Linked DNA regions of Homo sapiens. The protein of the gene in region 1 purifies or fractionates together with the protein of each later gene. This does not show direct contact. Each region holds a gene or a part of one and is shown on either strand. Other genes may lie near its edges. The genes, in order: ZDHHC8 and P4HA3.

Region 1 (3,660 bases):
AGCAAGACAGAGACGACGCGGACGTGGACTAGTGCAGCCGAGTTGTGGGGCCCCGTGCAGTCCCTGCCCTCTGGGCTTGGAGGGTTCACCTGGAAAGCAGGTGAGGGATGCAGAGCCTGCCTGGGGAGCAGCTGTGCTGTCACAGGACAGACAGATGTTGTCAGAACTGCCACCACCCTCCCGAGTCCCTGGGTCCCTCCTAGCCAGCACTGGCCACAGAGAGCATGGGGCAGCCAGGTGGGCACTGAATGGAGCCCCTGCCGTGCCCTGCACTGGGAGCCCAGCCACTCTGCCTGGCCTCATTCCTGCTCTCTCTCAGGAAAACGAGGGGCTGCCCTCCTGCCCACCAGCGCTGACCAACAGCAGCTGTATCTTTGCTACTTAAACCTTCTTGAGGCGAGAGCCCTTTGTCCCCGGGCTGCGATCCCTGCCTGGCTGCAATGCTGCCCACTTCTAGGTCTCGGGCTCCCCACTCATCACTCCCAGTGGCAGCCTCCTCCCCAACTCCACAAAAGCTGAACAGGTCCCACCCTGTGGGGTAGAGGAGACCCGCTCAGGGCTGGACTGCTGTGCCCTCAGCCCCTTTGTGGCCAAGTGGCCTGGGCTGGGCTGGGCTGGGCTCTCCCTCTGGGGCTGCATCTGCCGACGGGAAACAACTGCGCCTGTGCTTGAGGTTTCCAGGCCCGGACAGGGCGACAGATGCCGTGAGGACACCATGCGTCTGTGGCGTGGGTCCTGGCCCCAGCAGGTGTGCAGCTCTCCTACCTGGACCTGGGCCTGTGAGCCAGCTGACCCCGCCTTCTCAGTCACCAACCTGCCGGGTGCCTGGAGCCAGCCTGCTTTCTCCAGTCCTCAGCTTCCCCACCTACGAGCAGGGAAGCCCCTGCTTCCTAGAACTATGTCCTACAGGGAGGGCCAGGGCCCGGCCACTCAGGGTGGCACATTCTGCTGCTAGGTAATATCCTCAGCCCCAGCCTCCTAGAGATGCAGCCAAGCAGGCCCAGGGAGAGCCCTGGGTGGACAGGGCCACTGTGACCCAGGAAGCCAGAGCCACAGCCTAAAGGAGGCCCAGGCTGCCACATGATACTGGCCCCAAAGAGAAAGCCCCATGGCCTCCCACATGCTGGGTCTGTGCCAGCTCTAGAAGAACGAGTCGTCGGGCTCAGGACACAAATTCTCATACCCTGTCCCCAGAGCGTGCCCAGGACATCCTCAGAGCTGGGCCACACGGGCTAGCCAAGGCCTTCAAGGCAGGGTGAGGCGCATCCTCCCTGTCCCGTCCCCAGAGAAAAACTCAGGCCCCTGGGATGACCTATGAGTGCCCAGCCAAGAGGGGCCCTGGAGACGGCTGGACAGCTGCCCTGTGCCAGGAAGCCCACCCGCACCTCCCGGCACCCACCTCTGCACGGTCAGCGAGGGCGGTGGCTCTGGGAGGTCCGTGTGGATGAAGGCGACAGCTTTGGGGCCCGCGTAGGATGGTGAGTGGGGAGTGCCGGGCGGGGAGGGCAGGCCCTGGCGTGCAGGTGACCTGTGTGAGCCACTGCTGGGCCGGGGCCCCGGGGCGTTGCTGCTGGCCTGATCAGCCTGCAGGGAGGAGGACGACGTCCGCGGTGCACGGCTCACGGAGCTGGACAGCGAGGACAGTGACGTCTGCAGGGCAGGGTTGCGGGCGCCACCGAAGCCGGGCCCAGCCACAAGGTCGTCTCTGGAGCCATAGCGCAGCGCGGGACCTCGGGGGCCCTCGGACAGCACACTGGCCTGCTGCAGGCTGTAGGAGCTGGGAGCGTCATAGACGCCTGAGTCGCCGAAGAGTGAGTCGGCCTGGGAGCGCAGCAGGCGCTCACGCTCCTCCCTGTCCTTGCGCTCCTGGATGGATGCCATGATGGTCCTGGACAGGTTGTCGTAGCGCACAGGCGAGGGCTCCCGGGGGCGGGGGCCCAGCACGGGGCTGAAGCTGCGGGGTAGGGGCCGTGGCGGGTCGCCCGTTGCCCCAGGATGCAGGTAGGGTGAGTGGTATCCGGCCACGCCAACTGCTGGGTGGGCAGGGCAGGCGTGGCCACCAGGCGAGCCAGGATTGAGCAGGCTGTCATAGGACAGGCTGCCGTTGCGGTTGGGCAGTGCATGGGGGGCAAAAATGCTACGGTGGGGCGTGGGGGGCCCCCCCTCAGAGCGCAGGGGCTGCAGGGCCACATGATCCCCGCCCCGCCGGCTCGAGGCCTTGAGGCTCAGGGAGCGCAAAGCGCCCGAGAAGGCATCAGAGGCGCTGAGCGGTGGGGATGGCGGGTAGGCTGCATGCAGGCCCCCTGGCCCATAGTCAGGGAGGTCCAGGCTCGGCTCGGACACAAAGTCCAGGCTACGGATGCTGTCGTCCCCCAGGGTCAGGGAATCAGGGCCTGGAACCTGTAGGGAGAAGGCATTCTCACCACTGCCCACCTGCCACCCCGCCTGCAGCCGCCAGTCAGCACCCACGGGGGCCACACATGGCACCGTGGCCTCAGGAACTGGGCCTCAAGGAGCCATAAGAGCCACATAGTGACCCATGGCCCTGTCCCTGAGCATCCACGGCTGAGGGGCAGGGGCTCTGCAACAGGAGGGAGGCCACAGCTGGCTACTGCAGACACCTGGGGTTCTGCCCTTGGAGCCATGCAGCCCCAGGGGCCCACCACTCAGGGCAGCCAGAGGGAGGAGGAGCCTCGTCTAGCCCCTGTGACGGGCACATAGGCATGGGCTTGGGCTTGGGCTTGGGACAAGAGCCTCAGGAACCACAAAGCCAGAAGTGGATCAGGGCAAATGTGGGCTCAATGCACTTGGCCAACCAGACCCAATCCCCCACTGGACCCAGGAGTCCCAGGAAGATGACATACCCAGAGCCCTCATCTCCAAACAGGGATGCCTCCTCCTGCGAGGCACGGCCCCTACATGCCTGCAGACTCAGACCCTTGGCCAAGGAGGCTCAGACTCACTGCTTCACCCAGTGACTCTCTCCAGGAAAGACATCAGTCCTGAGGGGAGAGGTCCCTGGGGATGGGGCTGGTCTAGGTGCACAGGGCCCAGTCACAGGCCTGCCTCTCGGGGTGGCCCAGAAGGAAGGATGGCACCCTGGGACTGTTTGGTGTTCCTGATCACTGCACAGACCGCCCCGCACTGCCCACCATTCCAGTGACCACAGAGCACTCATGCAACTCAGGGAAGAGAAATGTGCTTTCTCAAGCACGTCTCAAATTCTTCCAAAGTCTTCCCGTGGGCCTTACAGAGTGACTAATGGTGGAATTCCAGGCATCCTGGTACACAGTGCTCCTGGGGGCAGCCGCCCACCTGGCCTAGGGCAATGCTGGCCAAGGGACAGACGCCAAGCCTGGATGGCCCACGCCAGCCCCTCCCAGGACACCCTGCTCCCCTCTGTGGGTCCCAGCTCTGGGTGCACACAGACAGGGTCCTACCAGTCACACAAGGCCCTTGGTGACCCAGGCAGAGCCCTGAGGGGCATGGCCTCAGGGGATGTGGCCTCTGCTGGAGAGATGGGGCTCTGGAGGTGGGGCCTTCACGGGGTGAAGGCTGTGGGGCGAGCTCCTAGAGGCGGGCCTGGGGGACGAGGCCTGCCAGGGGGCAGGCTAGGCCTCCTTACCTGCTCGCCTGGTCCACAGAAGGGCACCTTGGGAC
Region 2 (3,808 bases), on another chromosome or scaffold:
GAGAACCACACTAGAATAGAATAAAATAAAGTAGAGAAGATCAGAAGCTATCTCAGATATTAAGAATGTTTTATGACAATTATATTTCAGGAGGTGTGTGTGTGTATGTGTCTGTGTGTGTGTGTATGTGTGTGTGTCTTGGGTCATTATTTAAAATGTATTTTTTCCTAAGGGTCTCAGTCAAAAAGTTTGAATCTACTTATTGTAGCCCTCAATAAGGATGTTAGCTGGAAGGGAAAGAAAGGAAGAATACCAAAACATTGTCCTCTTGTGGCCCTGTAGGCAAACACCAATGCCATTGAGTAGGCTCCCGAAGTTCCTCCTGAGTTGGATGATTGTCTTTCAAGTATTTCTCTCAGAGTTGAAGAAAAGACCATGAGAAGGAATCTATGCAGATGTGACATCATATGACAGGGTAGGGAAGTCGGTGGCAGTTTTAACTCTGGCTTCTTCCTCTGGTCTTGTAGCTGAGCTCGGTGGAAGCTGGAGGAGCCACAGCCTTCATCTATGCCAACCTCAGCGTGCCTGTGGTTAGGGTGAGTGGGGCCCTGGTCCCAGAAGACGGGGTTGAGGGAGTGCAGCGCTTACCCTCTAACCTTCACGCTGTCTGTGCTTGCAAGCCCATTCCTGGGAGGAGGGCCAAAAAGAGGTCTTCCCCAATTCCCAGAATCACAGATCATCCCATAGTCTTCTTTACTACCGCACACATGCTCGTCACTTGTGCCTCTATTTGTTATTTTATTTACACTTATATTGCAAGTAGATGATTACATGTCTGTCTTCCCTGTCACAGTACAGCTCCTCAAGATAAGAGCTCTGTTTTATTTACTTTGGATCCTCTACAGCATCTAGTTCCTTCCATCATTAGTTCAGTCCACATTGAGAGCTAGAGGCACGGAGGGTGCAGAGGGAAATTCATAGCCCTTTGATCCAGGAGTTTACAGAGACGTCAGCAGGCATTATGATGTTGCAATAGGGATTTGGAAAGGATAGGCGCTGAGGAGAACTGAGTCTAAGAGGTTTGCTTCATGAATGAGTATTTCCTCCAAATTTCAGATCAGTCCAACTCCCTGGCAGCCCTTACCTAATTTAGGAATGAAATGAAGATAACTAAACGAGATCATTCCTGTAAAGCAGGTAGTACAGTGCCTGGCACATCCTGAGCATTCGATAATCAATGCCAGGTATCTCTGAATACTCAGGAGCTTGACGCCTCTTGTAGGCTTAGGAACATAGAGACTGCCAATGCATCCTGGAAAGCTCTTCATGACCTGGAGTTTTGTCTACTTTGAGGACCAAGGTTAAAGTAATTTGACTACAGGAAGTAGATACGGCAAAGAAGCCGTGTATGGGGGAAAAACATACAGGATTTAGCGTCAGAACACCTGGGCTTGAGTCCTCACTTTGCTCCTTCTTTTATTGCATTATTTAAAGCCCTGGGCCTCAAGTTCTTTGCTAGGAAACTGGGGATTATGATACTGCCTGCTCCCTGAAAGTGTTAATCATAAGTGCCTGAGGGAGGAAAAGCTTCTGAGTTAATGACATGCTTGGCTGTATGGGAATATTTTGTTCCACCTTGTGGTTTTGTTCGGTGTTTCTCCTCAGTGACCCAATGACAAATGTGCTCACCTTTCTCCCAGAACTCACCATGCTGTCTTGTTCAGGTCTGTTTTATGTCTGTTTCTTGTGAGCTCCTGGAGAGCAGAACTGGACGTAATTTGTCCCTGCAGCCCCAGGACCTGGGGTGCAGGGGACTCTGTCAGTGACCCATGCATGAAGGAGTAAATGGCAACTTATGCCATTTTGTGCCATTTTATGCATGCATTGCCCCCAGACTGCATGGAAAGGCTTCTTCAATGACATGCCTGCATTTGTCCTTAGTATGTGCTTCCCGAGGACTGAGGTTCTGGGCTGACCCTCCCTGGGGCTGGGCCCTCTTGTTTCAGAATGCAGCACTGTTTTGGTGGAACCTGCACAGGAGTGGTGAAGGGGACAGTGACACACTTCATGCTGGCTGTCCTGTCCTGGTGGGAGATAAGTGGGGTAAGTCTTGCCTTTCTGGGCATGAGAAGGGGGTACAGGGTGCAGAGTAGAGTGAAACAGGGGATGGGTGGGACCTACCACAGCCATCCCATTCCAAACGCTTCATTACAGTGCCACATTATATTGAGAAGATCAGATTATGAATGAGGTGCCCCCAACAGACTGGGAGCCTATAACAGGCAGGGGTTCCTGTTACAGAGTGACAGTCAGTAAAGGTTTATTCACCTGACCAGATAGGCCTTGATTCCTGAGCACTGCCAGAGAGGAATATGGTGTCCCATCCACACTCTACCCCAAGGAAAGATGTGTCAAGCCATTGTCTCTCCTGTTTAGTGCTCCCCATGAGGAGGTGGGAAAACAAAGAAGAGATCAATAAGCAGATGGACGTGTTTATGTCACATATACATCCAGGAGCACTTAGCTCTGAAACAGAAAGAGAAGTGGAAGGGGGCTCATAAGCTGAGGTGGAGGCTGCCAGGAGATGCCACCCGTTTTTCTCTCAGTACTCTGGAATGGCTTCATGGGGAACATGGGCTTCTAAAATGAAGGGTGAGTGATCTTAGTTCCCAAACGTTTGAAAATGAGTTTACAGGAGACAGGACCTGTGACTTTTTTCCAGAGGACAATGTCCTCTTTGCTATTTATCTGCTGGAAGAAACAGCTTGTAGTCCATAGTGAGGCCAGGACTAGGCTGGGCAAGTGAGTTACCTAGGATGCAGAATTTAAGGGGGCACTCACACGCGCCTATGAGTGCGCACCAGTCTGCAGCATTGCTGCTGTCTGTTCTGCTGAGCCTGCTGTCTCCTTCTTCCCTGTTCTCTCCCAGTGGCCAACAAGTGGATACATGAGTATGGACAGGAATTCCGCAGACCCTGCAGCTCCAGCCCTGAAGACTGAACTGTTGGCAGAGAGAAGCTGGTGGAGTCCTGTGGCTTTCCAGAGAAGCCAGGAGCCAAAAGCTGGGGTAGGAGAGGAGAAAGCAGAGCAGCCTCCTGGAAGAAGGCCTTGTCAGCTTTGTCTGTGCCTCGCAAATCAGAGGCAAGGGAGAGGTTGTTACCAGGGGACACTGAGAATGTACATTTGATCTGCCCCAGCCACGGAAGTCAGAGTAGGATGCACAGTACAAAGGAGGGGGGAGTGGAGGCCTGAGAGGGAAGTTTCTGGAGTTCAGATACTCTCTGTTGGGAACAGGACATCTCAACAGTCTCAGGTTCGATCAGTGGGTCTTTTGGCACTTTGAACCTTGACCACAGGGACCAAGAAGTGGCAATGAGGACACCTGCAGGAGGGGCTAGCCTGACTCCCAGAACTTTAAGACTTTCTCCCCACTGCCTTCTGCTGCAGCCCAAGCAGGGAGTGTCCCCCTCCCAGAAGCATATCCCAGATGAGTGGTACATTATATAAGGATTTTTTTTAAGTTGAAAACAACTTTCTTTTCTTTTTGTATGATGGTTTTTTAACACAGTCATTAAAAATGTTTATAAATCATTTTTCCCAACTGAGAATATTCTTACATTATAATGCTGAGTGGGAAAAAAGGGAGAGTACAGTTGGCCCTCCACATCCATGTGTTCCCCATCTGTGGATTCCACCTCGGATTGAAAATATTTGAAAAAAAACCATGGATAATAACAGACTTTATTCTGTACATGCTCAGTACAGATGCAATAGATTGTATTGTATTCCCTGAACAATACAGTATAACATCTTCTTACATAGCATTTACATTGTGTTAGGTGTTATAAGTAATCTAGAGGTGACAAAG

What was found.
Region 2: the proteins of ZDHHC8 (region 1) and P4HA3 purify together in Homo sapiens (co-immunoprecipitation; one large-scale study listed by IntAct). This does not show direct contact.

The regions. Positions count from the first base shown.
Region 1 is NC_000022.11:20,141,496-20,145,155, reverse strand, and holds part of ZDHHC8 (palmitoyltransferase ZDHHC8), read right to left. Parts: coding exon 3,626-3,660; intron 2,401-3,625; coding exon 1,400-2,400; intron 1-1,399. UniProt on the Homo sapiens protein: Palmitoyltransferase that catalyzes the addition of palmitate onto various protein substrates and therefore functions in several unrelated biological processes.
Region 2 is NC_000011.10:74,266,380-74,270,187, reverse strand, and holds the end of P4HA3 (prolyl 4-hydroxylase subunit alpha-3 isoform 1 precursor), read left to right. Parts: intron 1-467; coding exon 468-536; intron 537-1,946; coding exon 1,947-2,043; intron 2,044-2,376; exon of another isoform or gene 2,377-2,592; intron 2,593-2,869; coding exon 2,870-2,940; coding exon of another isoform or gene 2,941-3,127; 3' UTR 3,128-3,531; downstream 3,532-3,808. UniProt on the Homo sapiens protein: Catalyzes the post-translational formation of 4-hydroxyproline in -Xaa-Pro-Gly- sequences in collagens and other proteins.